Homo sapiens: one gene and its partners. The protein of the gene in region 6 interacts with the protein of the main gene of each other region in a pairwise test. Each region holds a gene or a part of one and is shown on either strand. Other genes may lie near its edges. The genes, in order: CPSF6, PTGES3L-AARSD1, GRB10, KCTD13, FNDC3B, ZMYND19 and GMEB2.

What was found.
Region 1: the proteins of ZMYND19 (region 6) and CPSF6 interact in binary tests that used the Homo sapiens proteins (3 or more experiments, as listed by UniProt).
Region 2: the proteins of ZMYND19 (region 6) and PTGES3L-AARSD1 interact in binary tests that used the Homo sapiens proteins (3 or more experiments, as listed by UniProt).
Region 3: the proteins of ZMYND19 (region 6) and GRB10 interact in binary tests that used the Homo sapiens proteins (3 or more experiments, as listed by UniProt).
Region 4: the proteins of ZMYND19 (region 6) and KCTD13 interact in binary tests that used the Homo sapiens proteins (3 or more experiments, as listed by UniProt).
Region 5: the proteins of ZMYND19 (region 6) and FNDC3B interact in binary tests that used the Homo sapiens proteins (3 or more experiments, as listed by UniProt).
Region 7: the proteins of ZMYND19 (region 6) and GMEB2 interact in binary tests that used the Homo sapiens proteins (3 or more experiments, as listed by UniProt).

Annotation. Positions count from the first base shown.
Region 1 is NC_000012.12:69,253,069-69,256,568, reverse strand, and holds part of CPSF6 (cleavage and polyadenylation specificity factor subunit 6), read right to left. Parts: coding exon 3,415-3,500; intron 1-3,414. UniProt on the Homo sapiens protein: Component of the cleavage factor Im (CFIm) complex that functions as an activator of the pre-mRNA 3'-end cleavage and polyadenylation processing required for the maturation of pre-mRNA into functional mRNAs.
Region 2 is NC_000017.11:42,960,029-42,963,528, forward strand, and holds part of PTGES3L-AARSD1 (PTGES3L-AARSD1 protein), read right to left. Parts: intron 1,324-3,500; coding exon 1,164-1,323; intron 1-1,163. Other genes in the region: alanyl-tRNA editing protein Aarsd1, read right to left, coding at 1,164-1,323. UniProt on the Homo sapiens protein: Functions in trans to edit the amino acid moiety from incorrectly charged tRNA(Ala).
Region 3 is NC_000007.14:50,590,897-50,594,396, forward strand, and holds part of GRB10 (growth factor receptor-bound protein 10), read right to left. Parts: intron 2,203-3,500; coding exon 2,056-2,202; 3' UTR 1-2,055.
Region 4 is NC_000016.10:29,909,227-29,912,726, forward strand, and holds part of KCTD13 (BTB/POZ domain-containing adapter for CUL3-mediated RhoA degradation protein 1), read right to left. Parts: intron 2,824-3,500; coding exon 2,734-2,823; intron 2,642-2,733; coding exon 2,589-2,641; exon of another isoform or gene 2,435-2,588; intron 2,332-2,434; exon of another isoform or gene 1,948-2,331; coding exon 1,752-1,947; intron 1-1,751. UniProt on the Homo sapiens protein: Substrate-specific adapter of a BCR (BTB-CUL3-RBX1) E3 ubiquitin-protein ligase complex required for synaptic transmission.
Region 5 is NC_000003.12:172,046,078-172,049,577, reverse strand, and holds part of FNDC3B (fibronectin type III domain-containing protein 3B), read right to left. Parts: intron 1-3,500. UniProt on the Homo sapiens protein: May be a positive regulator of adipogenesis.
Region 6 is NC_000009.12:137,584,547-137,587,512, forward strand, and holds part of ZMYND19 (zinc finger MYND domain-containing protein 19), read right to left. Parts: intron 2,562-2,966; coding exon 2,421-2,561; intron 1-2,420. UniProt on the Homo sapiens protein: May be involved as a regulatory molecule in GPR24/MCH-R1 signaling.
Region 7 is NC_000020.11:63,620,602-63,624,101, forward strand, and holds part of GMEB2 (glucocorticoid modulatory element-binding protein 2), read right to left. Parts: intron 1-3,500. UniProt on the Homo sapiens protein: Trans-acting factor that binds to glucocorticoid modulatory elements (GME) present in the TAT (tyrosine aminotransferase) promoter and increases sensitivity to low concentrations of glucocorticoids. Also binds to the transferrin receptor promoter.

The DNA of each region.
Region 1 (3,500 bases), on a different chromosome or scaffold from region 6:
TAATCCCAGCTGCTTAGAAGGTTGAGGCACGAGGATTGCTTGAGCCCAGGAGTTTGAGGCTACAGTAACCTATAATCACACTACTGCACTCCAGCCTGGGCAACACAGTGAGATCCTGTCTCTAAAAATAAATAATTTTAAAAACTAAAAATATTTCTTAACTATACGAGTACACATTTTTGTTCATCTTGTATAACATACCATAGAATTCAGTCATTCAAAATATATAATTCAGTGGTTTTTAGTATTTCACAGTGTTATAACCACCACCATAATCAATTTTAAAACATTTTCATCACCCCAAAAAGAAACTCCATATCCATTAGCCATCGCTCCCATTCCTTCCCATCCCTGTACCCTATGGAACCACTAAACCTAATTTCTGTCTCTGGACTGGCCTATCCTAGACATTTCATCTAAATGGAATCATACAATAGGAGGTCCCTTGTGACCAGCCTTCTTTAACTAGCATGTTTTCAAGCTTCATCCACTGTTACAGCATGCATCACCACTTACTTTTATGGGTGAATAATTTTCCATTATAAATATACAACATTAAAAGAAATGTATCCATCAGTTCATGGACATTTGGGTTGCTTCCACTTTTTGCTACAATAAAAAGATGTACAATATCATTAACTATTGGGGAAGTGCAAATCAAAACCACAAGATACCACCCCATACCCACTAGGGTGGCTATAATCAAAAAGACAAGTATTAAAGATGTGGAGAGGCCGGGTGCAGTGGCTCACGCCTATAATCTCAGCACTTTGGGAGGCCAAGGCAGGAGGATCATGAGGTCAGGAGTTCAAGACCAGCCTGACCAACATGGTGAAACCCCGTCTCTACTAAAAATTCAAAAATTAGCCAGGCATGGTGGCGTGTGCCTGTAGTCCCACGCTGGGAGGCTGAGACAGGAGAATCGCTTGAACCTGGGAGGCAGAAGTTGCAATGAGCCAAGATTGCGCCACTGCACTCCAGCCTGGGTGACAGAGTGAGACTCTGTCTCAATAAATAAATAAATAAATAAATATGTGGAGAAACTGGAACCATTGCACATTGCTGATGAGCACGTATTAATAAAATGGCACAATGCCTCTGGCAAATAATCTGGTAATTCCTCAAACATTTAAACATAGAGTTACTATATTAACCCAGTAATTCCATTCCTAGGTACACATCCAACAGAACTGAAAATACATGTTCACACAAAATGGGTACACAAATATTCACAGGGGCATTTTCCTTAATAGCCAAAAGTGGAAATAACCTAGACGTCCATCGACTGATAGATTAAAAGAAAAAAGTGCTATATCCATGTAGTGGAATATTACTCAGCCATAAAAAGAAATGCTGATGCATGCTTCAACATGGATGAACCTTAAAATCATTATGCTAAGGAAAAAAGCCAGTCACATAGGACTACGTATTTTATGATTCCATTTAGATGAAATGTCCAGAACAGGCATATCCAGAGCACGTTAGCAGTTGCCAGCAGATAGGAAGAGAGGAAATGGGAGTGACTGCTAACCAGGTACAAGGTTCCTTCTTGGAGTGATGAAATGTTCTGGAATGAGACAGTGGTAATGGTTGCTAAACTTCATAAATATAATAAATTATCATTGAATTGTACATTTAAAAGCCTGCATTTTATGGCATATGAATTATACCTCAAAAAGAAAAACAAATTTAAAATAATCAGAATGATTACCAATTCGTATAGTTACAGGATATTCTAAATTATTTGAGGGAGGGAGGGTCTTAGTAGCTTAAGAAGCTTAAGCTCTTTTCCCCCTAATGTTCAATATGATCTTTTAAATTATCCTTCTTATTTTAGTCAACAAGTTCTGCTGTTTGCACCAGGATTATCTTGGGTCACAACATTTAGAAAAAACTAAATTAATTTAACAAATATTTATTAAGCACCACTTCTTATACGCAAGGTACCATTCTAGAGCTGGAGAAGTAATAGAGAACAAAACAAAATCTCTGTTCTCATTAAGCTTAAAGGCTTGGAAGAGGAGACAACAAACGAGTAAAATATATCAGAGCAGAAATAAAGGAAACAGGATAGGAAGGTGCTACTTTGCACAAGATGGTCATGGAAGAAAACTCTTAAACAGTTTGAGTCCTGAATGAAGTCAAAGAGTAAGCCATGTGGATATTTGAGGGGGAAAAGTAAACCAAGAAGAGAAAACAGCTAAAGGTCCTAGGTAGGAATTGGTCTGGCCAACAGCAAAGAGACTAATGTGGCTGAAAAAGAGTGGTAGGATAGGGTTAGAAAGGTGGTGGGAAAACAGACCAGAAAGTACCTTGTAGACAATGGTAAAGAATGAGACAGACAGGAAACCATGAGAAGATTGAGCAGAATGTCATTTTTTTTTTAGAACTTCTGTTATGTGGAGTACAGACTGTAGGGGGCAGTCTATACTTCCAGTTAGGAAGCTACTGCCAAAGTTTAAGTGAGAGATGATAGTGGCTTTGACCAAGTGGTATAAGTAAAGTTAGTGAGAAGTATTCAGACTCTGCATATATTTTGAAAATATTCTCAGTTTAGTATAAATTGGTATAATCTTCTAAGATAAGTAAGCAATATAAGAAATAAGAAAATTCTTTATCATTGTGCATCTAACAATTTATCCTTAAAAGAAAATCCAAAATCTGTACCAAAAGACTTATATAAAATGATGTCTGCTGCAACATTATTTACAATAGGCAAAAGTGGAAACCACCACGATAACCAAAAATAAGAAAGGTAAATTACAGTAGCATACCAGGTATGATGCAAAAGAATTAGACATTAGAGAGGATGTGTATTTATTTTTATTCCTTATATCAAACATATAAAACACATGAATTATAATTCCATTATTTATTTATTTATTTATTTTTAGGAAAAAGCCCAAAAGAATCTTCACTAAAATGTTAAAAGTAAACATCAATGAATGGTAGGACAGTGGTATTTTATTTTCTTACTTTTAGATATCTGTATTTATAATGTTCTCATGCTGAGGCTATCCCACTTGTATAGTTTAGTAGTGAAATAAAGCAAAATATCCATGTAACACATTATTCAGTTGCCCATCTTCTCCCATCTCTTAATCACAGGGAGAGTAATGGTTCTTAAACTGTCATTTCAACAACCATTTCAACCACAGATAGAGAAAACTTGGGAAAAATAGAAAATAAATCTGTCCACATTTCCACTCTACTGGTTTTAGTGTGTTAGGTAATAGGGTACGTAAAATGAAAAGTATCAATCTTTGCCCAAGAACCTCCTTCCAATGTAAACAATCATGTGTTGTTTGTATACATGTGTATACATGTGTAATTAACATTAACTTAAAGGAAAGTTAACTTGTAAAAACTGTATCACTAGCTACTAAATCAAAAAGAAAGAAAAAAAAAACTTACCCCTTTGACTGGCCATTTGCCCGATTTTCAAAAAATTTTATCTCCAAAATATCATTTACTCCCAAAGAATGAACTGCTTCAGTTAA
Region 2 (3,500 bases), on a different chromosome or scaffold from region 6:
GAGAAGCCGAGGCGGGCGGATCACGAGGTCTGGAGTTCGAGACCAGCCTGGCCAACATGGTGAAACACCGTCTCTACTAAAAATACAAAAATTAGCCAGGCATGGTGGCACGCACCTGTTATCCCAGCTACTCGGGAGGCCAAGGCAAGAGGATCACTTGAGCCCGGGAGGTGAGGTTGCAGTGAGCCGAGATCATGCCATTGCACTCCAGCCTGGGCGACAGAGCGAGACTCCAACTCAAAAAAAAAAAGACTGTTCTGGTGCTATGTGGAGAATGGGCTACAGAGGAGCCAGACTGAATGTGGGGCAATCAATTAGGAAACTGTTAGAGAGGTCCAGGGGGAAGACAGCTAGGAGCTGGGACTAGGATGACAGTGACTGTGGAAAGAAGTGGACAGACATTTAGAAAACAAACCAACATGCTGGGGGGGTGTGGCTCATGCCTGTACTTTGCGGGGTCAAGGCAGGCGGATCATCTGAGGTCAGGAGTTCAAGACCAGCCTGACCAATATGGTGAAACACCGTCTCTATTAAAAATACAAAATTAGCTGGGCATGGTGGTGGGGGCCTATAATCCCAGCTACTCGGGAGGCTGAGGCAGGAGAATCGCTTGAACCCGAGAGGCAGAGGTTGCAGTGAGCCGAGATCGCACCATTGCACTCCAGCCTGGGTGACAGAGCGAAACTCTGTGTCAAAAAAAAAAAAAAAAAAGAAAAGAAACCAACAGGACTCAGTGATTGGCTGGCTGTCTATGCCTGAAGAGGTATCTGGAATGACTTCCAGAACTTGAGTGACTAGGTGCATGCTGATGCCCTGCGATGAACACACAGGATGCTAATGAAAGACCAGGAGGGAGGGGAAGGCTTTTTGTTTCATTTTGGACATTTTGAGTTTGAAAAGGCTGTGAGACATCCAGATGGAGATATCGAGTGGGAAGTTGATAATACCTAAATCCAGCAGTTATTCTAATACTTTTTTTTACTTCAGTTGTTCATGTTGCTGTTATAACATTTAGGATATCCTTCCTGAATTACAGCTGATTCTGAATAGTCTGTCTTTTCCAAAAGGTTAACTCCTAGAGAACCCAAACTACGTCTCAGTCATCACAGCATCCCCATACATGGCAACTGCTCCGGTGTTATGTCCCCCATCCCAGCCTTTACCTGAATGCTGCTGCATGTGGTCAAACCTCCGCTCCCAATCTACCCGGACCAGAACCTGGCTTCCTGGATCCAGGGGTGTCTGGGTGAAATGATCAGCCTGTTCCCCACGGCGAGTCACTCTCAGCACAGAGATGTCATTGATTGTACCACGGTCATCAGGCTGGTGGAAATAAGTAAACGTAATCAATGGCAAGGCAGGGCTCACCCTAACTTCTAGGTACAAAGACCCTCTAGGGTGAGAGACCCAGAATCTGGGCTCCCTAAGGGAGAGGGAGAAAGCAATGCCAAGTGAAATGAGTCCACTTTGTTCCATGAGAGGATTCTCAGTCCTTTTCATTCTAAACACCTATGTGTTGTGATCTTCAGAATAACAGAATTAAAGAGATTGTAACTACAGCAACAAAAATTTTAGTAAAACCCGAAGAATCTTAATCCTCAACTCTCCTTGCCTTAGTCTAGATTCTTTTGTAGTCTCTAAAATGATCTGATTTTTCCTCCCTCCCTCCACTCCATCCTCTTGCAGTGGTATTAGAATTAGATTCAAAAATGTTCATTTAGGCTGGGCATGGTAGCTTATTCCTGTAATCCCACCACTTTGGGAGACCAAGGCAGGAGGATCGCTTGAGATCAGACTGGACAACACAGTGAGACCCCACCTCTATGAAAAATAAAAAATTAGCTGGCCATGATACTCCCTGCTACTTGGGAGGCTGAGGTGGGAGAATCACTTGAGCCCAAAAGGTTGAGACTGCAGTGTGCTATGATTGCTCCACTACACTCCAGCCTGGGTGACAGAGTGAGACACTGTCTCATTTAAAAAAAAAAAAGGGCCAGGTACAGTGGCTCACACCTGTAATCCCAGTACTTTGGAAGGCCGAGGTGGGCGGATCACAAGGTCAGGAGATCAAGACCATCCTGGCCAACATGGTGAAACCCCGTCTCTACTAAAATACAAAAAATTAACTGGGCATGGTGGTGCACACCTGTAGTCCTAGCTACTCGGGAGACTGAGGCAGGGGAATTGCTTGAACCTGGCAGACGGAGATTGCAGTAAGCCGAGATCACGCCGCTGCGCTCCAGCCTGGCAACAGAGCAAGACACCATCTCAAAAAAAAAAAAAAAAAAAGTTCATTCATTTTAAAACATTTCAAGTGCCAACTGCTTACAAAAGACTGTGCCAGCCCAAGAATACAATGTAAACAAGATATGGTACCTCATGGAACTTAAGAGTCTAGAGAACAGAGGCTGGAAAACAGACAATTGCAATATGACCTATAACATGCCATAATATGAAAAAGTATATGACGCTAGAGAACCTCAAAGGAAAGAGACCTAACAGTCTTGGGGAATCAAAAAAAGACTTCCTGAAAGAAATGCTGTCTAAAATGAGACCTTCTATGGATACTTGAGGTCACAGGTTTTCCTTCAGCAGATCAGGGAAATCTTCATACTGGGAAAATCACCATAATAATGACTGATATGAAATTGGAACTCTCTCAATACCAAGTCTACTGAACATGTTCTCTCATGTCACTTATTTGCTTAAGAACCTGAGTGGAGGCCAGGGCAGTGGCTCACACCTGTAGGCCCAGCCTTTGGGAGGCCAAGGTGGGAGGACTGTTTGAGGCCAGGAGCTCAAGATCAGCCTGGGCAATAAAGTGAGACCTCATCTCTACAAAAAAGCAGCCAAGCATGTTGGTTGTGCGCCTGTAGTCCCCACTACTGGAGAGGCTAAAACAGGAGGATTGCTTGAGCCTGGGAGTTCGAGGCTGCAGTGAGCTAGATCAGGCCACTGCACTCCAGCCTGGGTGACATAGCAAGATCCTGTCTCTTAAAAATAAAAAAGAAAGAAAATAACCTGCATGGTTCGCTGCCCACACACCTTAATACACCTTTTTTTTTTCTTTTGAGACGGAGTCTTGTTCTGTCCCCCACGCTGAAGTGCAGTGGCACAATCTTGGCTCACTGCAACTTCAGCCTCCCGGTTCAAGTGATTCTCATGCCTCAGCCTCCCGAGTAGCTGGGACTACAGGGGCCTGCCAGTATGCCTGGTTAATTTTTATATTTTTAGTAGAGACAAGGTTTCATCATGTTGGTCAGGCTACTTGGGAGGCTGAGACAGGAGAATCACTTGAACCCAGGAGGCGGAGGTTGCAGAGCTGAGATCATGCCACTGCACTTCAGCCTGATGACAGCGAGAGATTCTGTCTCAAAAAAAAAAAGAAAGAAAGAAAGAAAAGAAAAGAAAGAAAAGCCTTTCTCATAATGCCCACCTTTGGTGTTATTATCCTCCTCTTCCATCTTCACAATGTACCTCACTTGCGCTCATGTTGTACC
Region 3 (3,500 bases), on a different chromosome or scaffold from region 6:
AATATGAAATACTGCAAATACAAGCTGTCTATTGGAGAGAGGCGTGTGAGAGAGAGATTATACACTGATGGGACTGGTCTACGTACACAGAAAAAAGAAATCCTAGAGTTGTTTTTCCTTGAAAAGGGTTTACCTCGAGCCAGTGAAGAGGAAGGAATCGTGGTGTAACTGCAATGTCCGTCCCTACAGTGAAGCCTGCCACCAGGTGTGAACGTGAGAATTATCTTACTGTCAATAGTTTGAAAGACTGACTGGCTGCGAAAGGAAGAAAATGCAATTGAGCACTGATGGTTAAAAACATGTTTTGCTAGAAAATTCTTCATTTGTATACCTTTCATGGAAAACAACTAGAGTGTGGTCTGTAGACTGACATACAGTGTTACTATACGGTAGACTGACTTCCAGCTGACTGGCCTTACTGAAGCTTGTGACACTGCTCTAGGCTACGGGGGTTGACTGAGGAGCAGAGAAATGCTGTTCCTTAGGGAACACTTCAGTGGGGCGGATTTGGGGCAATATCATGGCCAGCACACATTAATAGAAGCCAGGCAGGTGTTGTCTTGAAAAAGGAAATCATTCTGCTCACCACAGTAGTTTGTCGCCTGTCAAAGGAGTCCTTTCTGCTTTACAGGGATCAAAGGTAAGGAAATGGCCACTCTCACACCTGATCACTAAGCTAAGGGGACGTGGCAAAGGGGGCCACCCGAGGGGCGGAGGGGACCAAGTGACAACTCAAGCCACCATCTGACTCATCTCCCGGAGCGGGGACAAAGTGTTGTGTTGACAAAACTCTTCCATGTCCACAACCACTGTGAGGTACTTCTGACCCTAAGCCAGCAGAGGAGGAGCCTCTAGCTGCTCTGTGTTCACTGGCTTATGGGGGTTTTCAGCAGGACGGAGGGCTGCAAGCAAAGATCTTTAAATATCAGCCTGTGCCTGTGGCCCCTGCAGCGTTTCCTTGTCTTTATCACTATGGAAACCCATGAGACACAGCACGAAGACAACCAGGTGCCATTTTCTCTTTAGATCCTTTAATCCCCCGAGGGACATCAGCCGTGAAACGACTCACACCACTGCAGCAGCAGGGGTAAGGCAGTGATCGTTCTAGAACAGGCTGAAGGCTGTGGAAACGCAAGGCTGAAGTACCCAGGTGGATTATGCAGCATCCACCGCTGGCCGATGACGGGTGCCAGGTGTGTCTCAAGGAGGCTGGCCCACGTCAATCTAGAGGCGAGGCCATTCAGCCTGCTGTTTGTGGAACAGTGAATTTTCCAAAGGAATAAAGTCTCCTGCACTGTGCAGAACAAGACACACTAATAACAAGAGGATCTGACATCTGAGCATAGAGAAATGATTAACAGACTGTGGTTGCTTGACTGAGTCCACAAAATATGCCAAATGCCTACCACAGTGACACCTTTTATTTTAACAAGAAAGCTTTTCAAGTATACTGGGAAGGGCTGGGTTTGTCATTTGGGAGCTGAATCCACACCGTGGTAGTCGGCAGAGGGTGTGGAGGACCCTCTGGGAACATTTGGGGACCCATATTCAGTTTGAAATCTGCCCATTCAAAACTCTTTCTGTATTATATGAGTTGAAACGCCACATCCCCCTCCTACAATAGGCTGAATACAATATTGAAAACAAAGAAGGAGTGCAAAAAAGTGATCAATACAAAAAAAGTAAACATATCAGTTTTAATTGTCAAGATTATTCCAGGGCAAGAGTTCATTTCCAATCACTTCTCTCCGGTTCTTGTTCCTAAGCGGCCCAAGCCAAGATGATCATTCCAGTTTATTTTCAACTTTCCGCTGGATCTTCCATGCCCTCCCCAATTTGGCCGATGCAGAGGGAGGCGACCCTGCTGGGTTCACAGCAGCAAATCGTCGTTTAAGTCCAACAAACTAGTCAATCTTGGTCGGCTGGCACCGAACAAACCCATCTCGCTCTGGGTCCCCAGGTGCAGAATCGATGTGTGTTCTTCACCAACGCACAGACCGCTTCTTCACTCCAGTGTTCACTTCCTCCAGTCTTCAGCCGAGAGGACATCTGCGGTCATAAGGCCACTCGGATGCAGTGGTGCTTGAGTTTGCAAGGCAGGACTCCTTTGTTCAGCTGGTAAAAGTCAACCAGCTGGATCAGGTCAGAGAATTTGGTGTTCCCGTCATCTAGGCTGAAGAACGTCTGCCCGTCGTCCTCGCACTGGAGAGACACAAGAACACTTGCCAGGTTAGAGGCTGCCACCTCAGGGAACAGAACGGGGCCCACGGCCAGCAGCAGCTACATCTGCCCATGATTTGATTCCAGAGGGACACACAGGGCAAGGTAGGCTAGAAAACACCAGGGGCGGGAAAGACGGGAGCAGAGGATGTGTGCTGGGGGCTGCCATGTCCCTGAGCGAGGGACAGACTTTGGGTGGGCTGCGGAGGCTGCTGAGGACAGCTAGCTCCCCTGCTCCCTAAGGTGGTCAAGGGGAAGGGCTCGAAGTTGCCCCCAGTTCACCCAGCTCATGAGAATTACATTTACCAGTTAACTTGTAAGTACCCACTGCACACAGCATGCCCCGAGAAGACTGCACAAACCTGGGTCCTCACTATACGACCTCAGCCAACTCCTGAGGCCCCAGGGGTTTACTCTGCTCCATGATGAAGCAACTGTTGGGTGGCTATGAGGGATTAATAAGCTCACGCAGGTAAATTCCGTTCCTAGGTCCCTGAATATGGGGCAGTTATTTTTATTAAAGCAGGGGAATGCCACAGTATCTCCCAGAGAGAATCATATTCCTAACACCTATTTTAACTCAGTGAGTTTTCAGTTGGATGACTGTAGTACAGTGCAAAACACTGCTGAAAGGAGGTCGTGTTGTTCACAGGGAATAGGTCAGCCTTAAGGCTTGGCTAATTAATGAGCTTGGAACCACTTCGTAACTCTAAAACCATTGCTAGAGCTAACAGCACATCCCACAGCCAGTTTTCACACACAGAGGCTGCACACCTAATGCCCTAAGTCCCAAGTTGCTGTTCTTTTGTTACTTGTAGGATTTGGGCATTACACACTCTGCCTACCACGAAAGCCCCCTTTCTTTCTTTTTTTTTTTTAATTTACTCATCCAGCCTAAAATGTCAATCACTTTTCATTTTATATTTTGAGCTAAAAGAATTATAACTGTGTGAATAATATAATGCAGTAGAAGAACAAAAAGGATTGTCTATGCAGCACTTTCCCTAGGACAGTAATTCCTGTATTTGCATATAAGGTTGGCTGGAAGCTGGGAAGGCTGGGCTCAACCCCAGATTCTGTTCCTCACCCCAGTGCGGTGCAGGAAAAGCCACTGACAGCCATGAGCCTCATTTTCCTCACGAGTAAGGTGGGGATGTCAGCACACAGCAGGAAGCAAGCAGCCACAGAAAAGACAGTGCGTGGCACACTGCCTTCCCCTGGCTCACAAAAGCTAAGCAAGACACCCTCCTCATCCTGTATGGTCCATGGCTGCCAGTCAC
Region 4 (3,500 bases), on a different chromosome or scaffold from region 6:
TGAAGGGAGTGTGACCAACTTTGGGGTTGCTGGATTGAAAGTTCATGAGTGAAGGTGACCCAAAGAAAGTGATGCTTAGCTTGAGTCTTAAGATTAAGTACAAGTTCATTAGGCAGATAGAAGGAAAGAATTCCAAGAGGCAACAGTGTGTGCAGAGGTAAGAGGTAAGAAATAGCACTGAGTGCTTAGAGACTTGTGATGACTGTGGTGTACCTGAGGCATGTGGCTCATAGTAAGCTCGGAAGGGACCAGATGAGGAAGGGCTTGTATTTTGCTCAGCACTTCATTCCCCTTGATTTCCAGCCCGGTACAGTACTTAGCACAGAGCAGGGGCTTGGGGAATATCTTGATGATTGCCACATTAATGACTCAGGATCTACAAACTCAGAGGATGTTCTAAGAGACATCTGATTCTGAGGTTTTAAGAATCTATTTTTGGCAATGGGCCTTTCTGAGTTTCCCTTTTTTTTTTTTTTAATTAGAGTTAGGGCTCACTCTGTCTCCTAGGATGGAGTGCAGTGGCATGATCATAGCTCCCTGCTGCCTCAAATTCCTGGGCTAGGGCGGGCCCGGTGGCTCACACCTATAATCCAAGCACTTTGGGAGGCCGAGGAGGGCAGATCACTTGAGGTCAGGGGTTCAATACCAGCCTGACCAACATGGCGAAGTCTCTACTAAAGAGACTTCTCTACTACATTTAGTCTCTACTAAAAAATACAAAAATTAGCCGGGCATGGAGGCGGGTGCCTGTAGTGCCAGCTACTTGGGAGGCTGAGGCAGGAGAATCACTTGAATCTGGGAGGCAGAGGTTAAGTGAGCTGAGATCACACCATTGCACTGCAGCTTGGGCAACAGAGTGAGACTCTGTCTAAAAAAAAAAAAAAAAAAATAGGCTGGGGGCAGTGGCTCACGCTTGTAATCCCAGCACTTTGGGAGGCTGAGGTGGGTGGATCACGAGGTCAAGAGATTGAGACCATCCTGGCCAACATGGTGAAACCCCGTTTCTACTAAAAATACAAAAATTAGCTGGGCATGGTGGCACGTGCCTGTAGTCCTAGCTACTGGGGAGGCTGAGGCAGAAGAATCGCTTGAACCTGGGAGGTAGAGGTTGCGGTGAGCGGAGATTGTGCCACTGCACTACAGCCTGGTGACACAACGAGACTCCATCTCAAATAATAATAATAATAATAATAAATAAATAAATTACTGGGCTCAAGCAATCCTCCTGCCTTAGCTTCCTGAGTAGCTGGGATTACAGGTGCATGCCATCATGTCACCAAGCCACCACACCTGGCTAAATTTTTTGACTTCTTACAGAGATCAGGTCCCACGATGTTGCCCAGGCTGGTCTCGAACTCCTGGGCTCAAGTGATCCTCCTGCCTTGGCCTCCCAGAGTCCTGGGGTTACAGGCGTAAGCCACTATGCCTCACCCCTTCTGAGTTTCTAATGGCAACTATGGACCCCCTATACAGAAAAATGCATACACCCCCATTTCAGGAGTTGCAAACAGCCTTGAAACCCATCCAACAGGCCTAGGCTAAGCACCCTGCTCTAACCCGTGACCCCCATTTCACAGAGAAACAGAGACCCACAGGGATAGGGTGGCTTGCCCACTGTTGTGCACCCCAGACCCCAGGATCTGGCTCCTGCCTCCTGGTGGTGGGCTCCTTCCCCTGCCAACCTGCTTTTGTCCAGGGTCCTGGTCCTGGCCACCCCCAGCCCCCAACATAGGCTCTGGAGCCCCTCTGACCTTGGTCTGCTTCTTCTCCGTAGCATAGACAATGGAGGTGCAGCACACCTCGGCGATTTTGCGGCCCTGCCCGTAGAAAGACCAGCAGCAGATCTCGTCCCCCAGGACATCCTTGAGGAAGAGTAGCCGCCCGTGGAAGCGCAGGGCCAGCTTGTCGAACAGCTCGATGTTCTTAAGTAGGTTGTCATCTGAAGTGCTGGGGACCAGGGGACCAGGAGGCCTCAGCGCAGTTGGCACCCCTCCCTCTGTACCCCCAGAAGACGGGCCTGGATGCATTCCCAGTCCTCTGCTCCTGCCCAGGGCTTTGGTGCTCAACAGAGAGCCTCCTCCACCCCTGGGGCCAGGCTAAACGGGTCTCAGAAGGGAAGCCACATGCGCTGAGCAAATCCCAGCACAGCACAGCACAGCAGCTCCAGTGAGGGACCGGGAGCCAGGCCACCTCCCCGGGGGTCCTGGTGTCCCCATTTTTTAACTGGGTGACACTAGGCAAGTTACTTCACCTCTTGGTGTCCCGACCTCCTCATCTGTAAAATGGAGCTCACAACAGTACTGACCTCAAGGGGGAGGACTCTGCCAGTTCCTAGAATGAGAGCACTTGGGATAGGCTCGCCACTATCACTTTGTCCTCACCCAAACCCATTTACTGATGACTGAGCTGAAGCTGAGAAGCAGAAAGGACCTGCCTAGAGCGTCAGGGGTAAGAGGCGAAGCCGAATCTGCGAGCAGGCACAGATGTTCTTGTAGGCCCCCCGTGTGGCCGTGGCCCTCGCCTTGGGCAGAAGCAGGGCTGTGCTGCATCCCAGGGTCCCGCCCAGTGCCCCGCACCCCGGCGGTCACCTGGTGTAGGAGTACTTGTTGTTACTGCGGTTGTGCAGGAGCTTCACCACGGGCTGGCGGGGGAGAGAGGATGGACGAGAGGGGTGAGGCTGCAGGGAGAGGCCCCCCCAGTGAGCCTCCACCCTGCAGGGCTTGGGGGCCTCACCTTGGAGGTGCTGGCCAGGAGCTGCTGCTCCTCCCGGGGAGATGTCACCATGGGGATGAGGCACAGCGGGGACAGCGTCTCCCTTTTTTGCTGGGGAAGAAGCGGAAGGTGGTTAACAGCACAACCAAAGGCCACGTACTCCCCCACTTAAAAGCCTTCAAAAGCTGGTTGGGAACAACTCCAGACTCCTCAGTGGTCCGCAGGGCTCTGCAGGCTCCAAGCTCCGCCAGCCTCTCTGCCACTCTCCCTTTGCTTGCTGGGCCTTGGTCCCACGGACACCTTGCTGCTTCACACATCCAGCTTGTGCCTGCCCCGGCCACTGGCTGTGCCCCTGCCCGGGATGCTTCTTTGCTCAGCTGTCAGCGTGGCGTGTCCGTCATGCCATTCAGATCGCAGGTCACACAGTGCCTCCTCAGGGCCAGCCCTCCCCAGCCCCCCTGGCTAAAACAGCCTCCTCTACATCCTGCCTTTTGTGTTATCAGTTTTCTTTTTCTTTTTTTGAGACAGAGTTTCGCTTGTTGCCCAGGCTGGAGTGCAATGGCGCCATCTCGGCTCACTGCAACCTCCACCTCCCGGGTTAAAGCAATTCTCCTGCCTCAGCCTCCTGAGTAGCTGGGATTACAGGCATGTGCCACCACACCCAGCTAATTTTGTATTTTTAGTAGAGACGAGGTTTCTCCATGTTGGTCAGGCTGGTCATGAACTCCCGAACTCAGGTGATCAGCCCGCCTCAGCCTCCCAAAGTGCTGGGATTACAGGCGTGAGCC
Region 5 (3,500 bases), on a different chromosome or scaffold from region 6:
CCACCCTGGACAATAAGAGCGAAATTCTATCTCAAAAAAAAGAAACAAAAAACAATGTTTAAAGGTTAGAAAATGTGACAGGTCCGAGTGTACACCTACTACTGGATTTCTAAATGACTCGCTGTGCTATTCAGGATAGATTATCTTCATGTGCTTACATGGTCTGCCAATATTAACAAACTCCCTGATTCATCTCAATATTAAAATGCCCTTTTTTCCCCTCCAGAGATCTACTTTTAAACATTTTCCTCTTAAATTTAAGTCAGTTAATAAAATAAGGAAACTCTCTGATCTCCAAAAAATGGCCTAGGGAAATCTCCATTTACACTGCAACAGCCAGATGAAGAAAAAATAACTATATACCTGCCTGAAGCAGACCAAGGGGGAGTAAAGAGGCATATGGAGACTGTGTAGGATACATCTTCAATATTTACTTTTGCATTTTTTAATTGTCATAAAATATACATAACAAAAAATTTACCATTTTCTGCATTCAACTTAGTGGCATTACATACATTCATAATGTTGTACAACCATCGCCACTGTTCATTTCCAGAAATTTTTTATCATCCCAAACAGAAATTCTAAACCCATGAAACACTATCTCTCCATCTTCCCTTCCCCCAAGCCCTGGTAATCTCTATTCTACTTTTTGTCTCTATGAATTTACCTATCCTAGTCATCTCATGCAAGTGGATATATACAATATTTATCTTCTTGTGTCCGGCTTATTTCACTTAGCATAATGTTTTCAAGATTCATTCATGTTATGGCATGTATTAGAACTGCCTTCTTTTTTATGGCTGAATAATATTCCACTGTACCAAAATATTCCAATATATAATACCATATTTTGTTTATCCATTCATCTGTTGATGGGCATGGGTTGTTTCTACCTTTTAGGTATTGTCAATAATGCTGCTATAAACACTGGCTTTTAAGTACCTGAGTCCCTGCTTTCTTTTGCGTATAGGAATAGGAATGGAATTGCTGAATCATATAGTAATTCTATGTGTAAATATTTATGAACTACAGAACTGTTTTCCACAGTAGCTTTATCATTTAACATTCCCAACATGCAATACACAAGGATTCCAGCTCAATATATTTAAGTATTCTCTAATTCACTACTTCAGAATAATGTTTACCTCTATTTCTTAATCAGAATTATTTTTCTTGAGATTAAAAAAACCATGATCGAAAAATCAGAAACAGCATCTAAAGACTTTTATTATTTTCTTTCCCATTGAATGACTTAAACAATAAAAGATATAGAAGGTATAGAATGGGTTTTTTAAAACCTTTAAAATACTAAGAGAAAATGAAGCATAATATCCTAGAAATACATTAAGTATCCTATATGTACAACTTGTACTGTTAAAAACTGGTCAAATCTGACCCCTAAGTAGACACATACTAGAAAACCTCGCATCTGAGTGACTGAGTATAAAACGTAAAATATCCAGAAATCTTTTAAAAGAAACTTACTCTTATTACTGGCAAGTTCATACAGTACCTGGAACTAAGCTGCCCAGGAGGATCTTGCTTTAGTAAAAGTAGAGGAGAAGGACATGTAATTACCTTATCTAAATACTAAACTCAGGACTCTCCACAATCTTGCCCAAACACAAAGGCAGAAGAAATGAAGCTAAAAGCAATAATGATGCTCTTAAACCTTTAACACCTGCTGTCCCCAATCTGCCATCAAATGCTTACACATGACAAAAGAAGTTAACAAGTAGCAAAACAAATGTCAATAGAAAAACTCCAAAACCAATAAATAGGCATAGTTGGAGTCTATTGGTAGAGTGGAGTGGGGTGGGGGAGGCAGATATTGTGTTTATTGTTGTGATGTATTTTGCAAGCAAATAATATAGTTCTACCCATTGCTGGTAAACTGTTTGTAGTTCACATAATAGCATTGAGTCAATCAATATTTATTTCATGGCAATCCACAGAGAGCACTGACTTTCCAGGGGCTCCTGTATCTCTATGAAAAGACCACCAGCAGACCAGCATCAGTGAATGCATTCTGCATTTTTACACTGCTTTTAAGTAAATTGATTTTCCCAAGGTGCTTAAAAGTGGTTTGTTCTTTTAATTAGGTAAATATTCCTCTTAAGATCTATTTAAACTTGATATTTACAGTAAAACCTTTTCATACAGAATAGGCAGCCAAACTTTATCCTAGCCTTGCCTAGATAATTGCAAATCCCTAATTAGCTACATCTAGAACAATGGCGTTATTTTTAATAGAGACCCCTCTTTCATAGGCTATGGGGAATCTTAAATCCCTTAAAAATAAATTAAACCATTATATTTCCTGGGATCTTAGAATCTTCAATTATTTCTAAAACATCCCACCTTTGTTCATGTATAAAGATCACTTTCTACACAATTATTTCAACAGAAAGCTTTTCATAATTGTGAGTTAGGATCATGTCAATTTAAGTAAGTTTTTATGACTAGTTGGCCTTTATGAAAATCTTTACTACTCTTTCCAGGGTCAAAACAAAGATGTATCCTTACATTCTAATATAATTTAGAAGCCTTAAAGTCTAACACAGCCTGAAGGTGCTCCAATTTTACTATTTCTCAAATTTCAGAAGGTAGCAAAGAGTTGAACTTACCACCATCCAGCCTTAGGAGTTTGGTGGTAGACACTGTTCTCTATACAAGATTCCAAAAACATCAGAACAGAGTAGAACATTCCATTAACAAAGAACCTGGTCTAGATCTCAACAAATGCATTCTGAGTCAATAAACAAGTAACTGAAATGAAATTACATTTTAAGCTCAAATAGAATCATTTAACACAAGACACACTTTGATACTTACTAGAACCTCAAATAACACTGTGACTCAACACCATCTCAGAAAAATCCCCTACCACCCTGCAAAATGGTTATTTGAAACTGATGAGGTATTTTAATGATATTATAAAAACAAAACAGGGCCGGGCAAGGTGGCTCATAACCTATAATCCCAACATTTTGGGAGGCTGAAGCGGGGGGATTGCTTCAAGCCAGAAGTTAGAGACCAGCCTGAGCCACAAAGTGAAACCCTGTCTCTATAAAAATAAAAAAAAAAACATTAGCCAGGCATGGTGGCGTGAACCTATAGTCCTAGCTATAGCCCTACTCAAGGATCACTTGAGCCCAGGAGTTCGAAGCCATAGTAAGCTATGATAGAGCCACTGCACTCCAGCAGCAGTGAAACACTGTATCTTAAAAAAGAAAAAGAAAAAAAATTAGGAGCCAATGTCTAAACTGACACTGAGTAGTGAGTGCCAAGGGCATCAGAAATTCTGATCCAACACTTACAGAATGCTAAACTTGCATATCTTAACTGGGGAGAAACAAAGAAAAATTCAACAATCGATCCATTTTCAAACTGACAAACATCCTCATCTGTATGTAGATGGCTGATCACGACTGTCTATCGATCTTATGTGATTTATACTTGGTGGTTTTAAAAACATTTCTGTCCCCTGATCTTCA
Region 6 (2,966 bases):
GAAGGCATTGCCAGGTGGAGTGGTGAGCAGCGGGCGAACTTGCGGAGTTGGGAAGGGCCCATCCCAGCATCAACACTGAGCATGTATCAATGTGGGACAACGCAGGAGGAGATGCTACAGATGCTGCTCTGCCTGCCAAGCACGCCTTCCCCTTCCCCTTCCCTTTTCATGTAGAAAAGTGATTCTAAGCAAGCTAACTACAGTTCATCCCAGGGCTTCCCCAGACACCACTAGAACAGGGTGCCTGCTTCAGTCCGCAAGTGCTAGGTAGTGCCCATGCCGCCTCCCAGAGAGGAGCCGGGAGTGGGGGCGCAGAGCTGGAGGCAGCAGCATCCCTGGCTCTCCACATTTCAGTCAGGATACCAAAATGTACCCTATTTTTGTTTCAGCCAAATTGACCTTTGTTTCTGTTTCTTGCAACCCAAAGTTCCAACTAACATAATCCCCGAAAGAATAAAAACCCCATTCAACAATCGTAAGAGGCCTGGCTTCACTCACAAGCAGTATGAGGAAGGTCAAAACTCTAATATTAGAGCAAGGACCGGGCGTGGTGGTGCACACCCGTAATCCCAGCTACTCAAGAGGCTGAAGCGGGGCCAGGCGTGGTGGCTCACGCCTGTAATCCCAGCACTTTGGGAGGCTGAGGCAGGCGGATCACCTGAGGTCAGGAGTTCAAGACCAGCCTGGCCAACATGGCAAAATCCCACCTCTACTAAAAATACAAAAATTAGCCAGGCGTGGTGGTGGGCACCTGTAACCCCAGCTACTAGGAAGACTGGGGCAGAATTGCTTGAACTGGGCAGGCAGAAGCTACAGCGAGCCAAGGTCGCGCTACTCCAGCCTAGGCAACAGAGCCAGACTCCGTCTCAAAAAAAAAAAAAAAAAAAAATGCTGAGGCAAGAGGATTCCCTGAAGCCAGGAGTTCAAGAACAGCCTGGGCAACATAGTGAGACCCATCCGTAAAATTAATTAATTTAATGAAATAAACAGAGCAGGGAAAAAAAAACACCAGCCCAACAAGAACGAAAGACACTTCAGGCTCTGCCTTCGTCCTGAGAGGCCCAGTGAGGAAGGGATGGGGGGGGATTTGTAGGACTCCCTCCAGGGTGGCAGGAACAGCAGTTTGGGAGTGGCATTTTGGAGGCCTGGGGACTGTCCCCACATCACCAACCAGTGTGTCAGGTGCTCCCACTGTTTCCACCTCGGCTGCCCAGGGCTCTGGCATGACTCTGAGGTGACAACTGCAAAGATTCTACCCACAGCCACCAACCATCACCAAGCCCGAAACACTAAACCTTACCAGCGTTGCTGACAACCATCTGCTAGGGCAGTTCGCACTGCCTGCACCAGGAAAGGCTGCCCAGAGGCTTGAGGACGTGCCCAAAAGCCCCAGGGCGCCAGGGGAACATGTCAGTGAAGCGTGTGTGGCTGGGGACTCCCTGGCTCAACTGGGCTCCCAACCCCTATCCTGCTGGTCCCTTGGCTCTTCCCAAGGGCTCCATGAAGTTCACAGACTGGCTGGTTCTAGGGCCAGCAGGAACCGCCCTCCCAGGTGGGAAGCCCATGCAAAGCACTGCTTTCAGGATCACAGGCAGGTCGGGGGCCGAGGGCTGAGCCCTGAACCATTCTCCGCTTTAAACCTTTGCTTAAGGAAAACTGTTTAGCAAAAGAACACAACAAAAAGACCCATCTGTGTGCACAGAAAAGAATCCTGAGGTGAGGAGAGAAGGAAGGAATCCTGAGGTGAGCAGAGAAGGAAGGAATCCTGAGGTGAGCAGAGAAGGAAGGAATCCTGAGGTGAGCAGAGAAGGAAGGAATCCTGAGGTGAGCAGAGAAGGAAGGAATCCTGAGGTGAGGAGAGAAGGAAGGAATCCTGACGTGAGCAGAGAAGGAAGGAATCCCGAGGTGAGGAGAGAAGGAAGGAATCCCGAGGTGAGAGAAGGAAGGAATCCCGAGGTGAGAGAAGGAAGGAATCCTGAGGTGAGAGAAGGAAGGAATCCTGAGGTGAGAGAAGGAAGGAATCCTGAGGTGAGCAGAGAAGGAAGGAATCCTGAGGTGAGGAGAGAAGGCTGATGCCTCCCAGGGGTGTGGGGCAGAAGCCCTGCTCACACCGAGTCCCGACGCTGGCCCTGCCCTGGAGCAGGCAGCCCTTCTCCCCACTGTCATGCCAGCTAAAGGGAGGTTCCCAGAGCCAATTATAAGAGGAGCAATGCAAAAACACACACCATCAAGATCCTTCCCGCTCCCATGAAGAAAAGGAGGATTCCACGCTTTGGGGAAAAACAATGAAATTCCCAAAATACACAGAAGCATCAGGGCTCAGAGGAGGAACAGGAGACCCTCTTGGAAACAAGAGCTTTGGCGGTGGCCCTCCTCAAAAGGCGCCTCTGCTGGCATCGCCAGGCCCTGAGAAGACCCACCTCTGCTTGCTGGAGGTCTCTTCAGCCTTGGGCCGCCAGCCCCACGGCACCAGTTGCAGGTTGTCCAGGCGATTGTCCACGGTCACAGCGTTGAGGTGCACCACCTGGAAGCCCGGGGCCACGCCCCCCCGGTGCCGCTCCCTAGAAACAGACAGCAAACCCTGCATCTAACCCTGCATCGCTGCCTCCCACCCTCACAGACATTTCTGGTCAGGTACCAAAGTCCTTCCAGGAAGAAATGTCAGCCATGTGATCTGATCGGGCCCCTGGTCCTTTGGATGAGGGTACCTCAGGCGGAAGCTGCTGAGAGAAACCCAAGCACCTGATCTGTGGCCCAAACAGGACAGGGACACAGGGAGGACCCGGCCCCTGGACTTCAGAGCACAGACAGCCAAAGCTGGAACGCAAAACCACCTAAGCAGATGGCCTCGAGACAGCTCCCCATCTGAGTGGTCCCTACCATGCACACCGGGGGGGCTCGGCAAAACCCAGCAAGGGGAGCAACCACCGTCCCTCCAGAGGCTGCCGGTCCTGGGCAAGCTCCCA
Region 7 (3,500 bases), on a different chromosome or scaffold from region 6:
ACTGCCCAGGTCTCAGATGGGCCCCAGTGGCGCATATGGGACAGATCCACAGTGCACTGGAAAGTCTCTAAAATAAACTGGCCTAAGAACACAGACACAGGAACGGGGTGCAAAATTTGCAGCCTGAACCTAACCAGGTCGATTTCTTGCTATGAAAAAAAAAAGTCTACATTCTCTGTGAAACTTAAAACAAGACCTAGAGTCCATAGCACAGTAGTCAAAGCATCCAGAACACGATCAAACTTCCTGGCAAAGGGTAGTCTGGTTGATTCTCAAAGGAACAAATACACAAGAGAAGCTGGCTCTTGAACGCAGAATCCAGAGACTTTCAGGTGCTATCGGACCAGCTCCAAGAGGAAAGCAAACATTGTCAACCAAGTGGAAAGAAAATCTTGGTATAGAAACAGGAGTTATAACCAAACAGAAATGTGAAAATTAAAAACGACAACCAAAAGAAAATACACAAAGCTGGGATAGTCTCAGCTACTCGGAAGGCGGGGCTGGAGGATCGTTTGAGCCTAGGAGATTGAGGCTGCAATGAGCTGTGATCACACCACCGCACTCCAGTCTGGGCAACAGAGTGAGAACTCTCTCAAAAAACGAAAAAGAAAGAAAGTAGAACAGAAGTGACCAGGGGCTGGGGGAGGGAGTACAGGGAGTTGTTCTTTAATGAGTACAGAATTTCTGTTTGGGATGATGAAAAGCTCTGGAAATGGACGGCGGTGATGGCTGCACAATCACTGTGGCTGTTCTGAATGGTGCTGAACCACACATTTAAAAACAGTTAAAATGGGCTGGGCGTGGTGGCTCACGCCTGTAATCCCAGCACTTTGGGAGGCGGATCGCCTGAGGTCAGGAGTTCGAGACCATCCTGGCCAACACAGTGAAATCCTGTCTTGACTAAAAATACTAAAAATTAGCCAGGCATGGTGGCAGGCACCTGTAGTCCCAGCTACTTGGGAGGCTGGGGCAGGAGACCTGCTTGAACCCAGGAGGCAGAGGTTGCAGTGAGCCGAGATCGTGCCACTGCACTCCAGCCTGGGCAACAAGAGCGAAACTCCATCTCAAAAAAAAAAAAAAAAAAAAAAAAAAAAAAGTTTAAAATGGTTAAATTTTATGTTATGTATATTTTACCGTAATAAAAACACTGTAATGCTACTATAATAGAATGACTCATTAGGATTAGATATAGACTAGAAAGTACAGAATATAAAAACTTTTTAAACAAAGAAAAATTTTCATGGCCAGGCATGGTGTCACACCTGTAATCCCAGGACTTTGGGAGGCCAAGGCAAGAGGAATGCTTGAGCTCAGGGGTTTGAGACCAGCCTGGGCAACACAGCAACACCCCATCTCTGCTAAATAAATAATAAAAAATAGCCAGGCATGGTGGTGTGCACGCCTGTAGTTGCAGCTACTCTGGAGGCTGAGGCAGGAGGATCACTTAAGCCCAGGAGGTCAAGGCTGCAGTGAGCCATGGTTGTGCCACTGCGCTCCAGCCTGGGCAACAGATCAAGACCTTGTCACAAAAAAAAGAAAGAAAGAAAAGAAAAAAGAAAGAAAATAAAATCTTCCAGAACTTTTAAAATCATCATTGTTAATATAAAAATAACATCACCTGCCCCTAGGACTGTAACAAACAAGTGTGTCTAAGGACAGGAGTGGGTCCACCCCAACCTGGCACGCAGTGGTCCCCTGCGGAGAGTCTGGCCCTGCACTCACTAAGGGGAGGCACTCATAGCCCAGCCAGGCCTCTGCAATTATGCCTTCAATGCCAGAACTAACTCACCCAAACTGAACAATCGATCACAAAATGTGCCTTCAGGTCTCAAGGTTCTTGCTAAATCTTACTCAACCGACATTTTCCAGCATGGGAACATTTTTCTGAATGTCTTAGGGAGAGGAAGTCCGCAAGAGAACAAAAGGTCCTCAGGCCACCCTAGCTTCTTTTCCTCCATTCCACAGGCTGTCTTTTGTCTGGGTATGCACTGGACCAGGGGGCTCTACTTCTTCCTACCTGGGCATGGGTCTCCACACAACTCCAAGGTAAAGGGCCACAGGCAAGATAAAGGGGAGAAAAGAAAGCTACGATTTCCTGGGCCACCAATCGCAAATGGCAGCCAGTCTCTGAAGTAACCCTTGACCAGAGATCCAAGGAACCAAGAAATGTAGGTGATCTGAACAGAGGGGATGGTGGTTAAACACCATGAAGGAAAGACCCATTCTCAAAGAAAAGGAAGCAAAAAGAAACCGTGGGGAGCTGGGTACCACCCGCAGCAAAGACCCCGCACGCGTTACTGACGCCAGCCTGGCCTGGGAGAGCAGTGAGTGTGGCGGACGGTGAGTGGCGGGGAGGGCTGTGGTAGGTTTAGGGTAAGAAGGGGCAGCGCCCAGAGCCCAGAGAACACCAGTGAGGGCTCCACAGGAACACTACTCAAAGTATTCACGGAACACATCTAAACACAAGCACTAAGGACTAAGTGCGAGGGACAAGAAAATATTCCCCGTTTCCTGTTTCAGGAGGGTATCGAAAATGAGTGATGGAAGGAAAATGTATTGTTTAAATGAGGAAAAAAAATTTTTACAAATTAAGAACATCCTGGAACATGATGAGCCGTTTACTGTCACTCAATTTAAATGGTGGCCATCTAGGACAGAGCGCCTAAGGGGAAAGGGGGCTCACAGGTGAACCCCTCCAGCTGCTGGTGGGCAATTTCCCATTAGGGCATCAGGGTCTCTGAAGACTGTCTTCAGATGCTTTTTAGCCAGGAAAGTTACAATGATGAATTCGTTTACACTGGCGGAATTACTTCGTATTTCTCAAATATAATGTTTTCACTAGCATAACTTTGTTGTTGTAGACTTAGGCTTCAAAATAAAGAACTTTAAACAAACATGAATAAAAAGCCACTTTAGGCCGGGCGCGGTGGCTCACACTTGTAATCCCAGCACTTTGGGAGGCCGCGGCGGGTGGATCATAAGGTCAGAAGTTCAAAGACCAGCCTGATCAATACGGTGAAACCCCGTCTCTACTAAAAATACAAAAATTAGCCGGGCGCGGTGGCAGGTGCCTGTAATCTCAGCTACTTGGGAGGCTGAGGCAGGAGAATCGCTTGAACCTGGGCAGCAGAGGTTGCAGTGAGCCAAGATCATGCCACTGCACTCAAGCCTGGGTGACAGAGTGAGACTCTCTCTTAAAAAAAAAAAGCCACTTTAAAATTTTACTCAGGCCAGGTGTGGTGGCTCACGCCCATAATCCTAGCACTTTGGGAGGCCGAGGCGAGCAGATCACCTGAGGTCAGGAGTTAGACCAGCCTGGCCAACATGGTAAAACCTTGTCTCTACTGAAAACACAAAAATTAGCTGGGCGTGGTGGTGTGCCCATGTAATCCCAGCTACTCAGGAGGCTGAAGTGAGAGAACTGCTTGAACCCGGGAGGCAGAGGCTGCAGTGTGCCAAGACTGCACCACTACACTTCAGCCTGGGCGACAGAGCAAGAC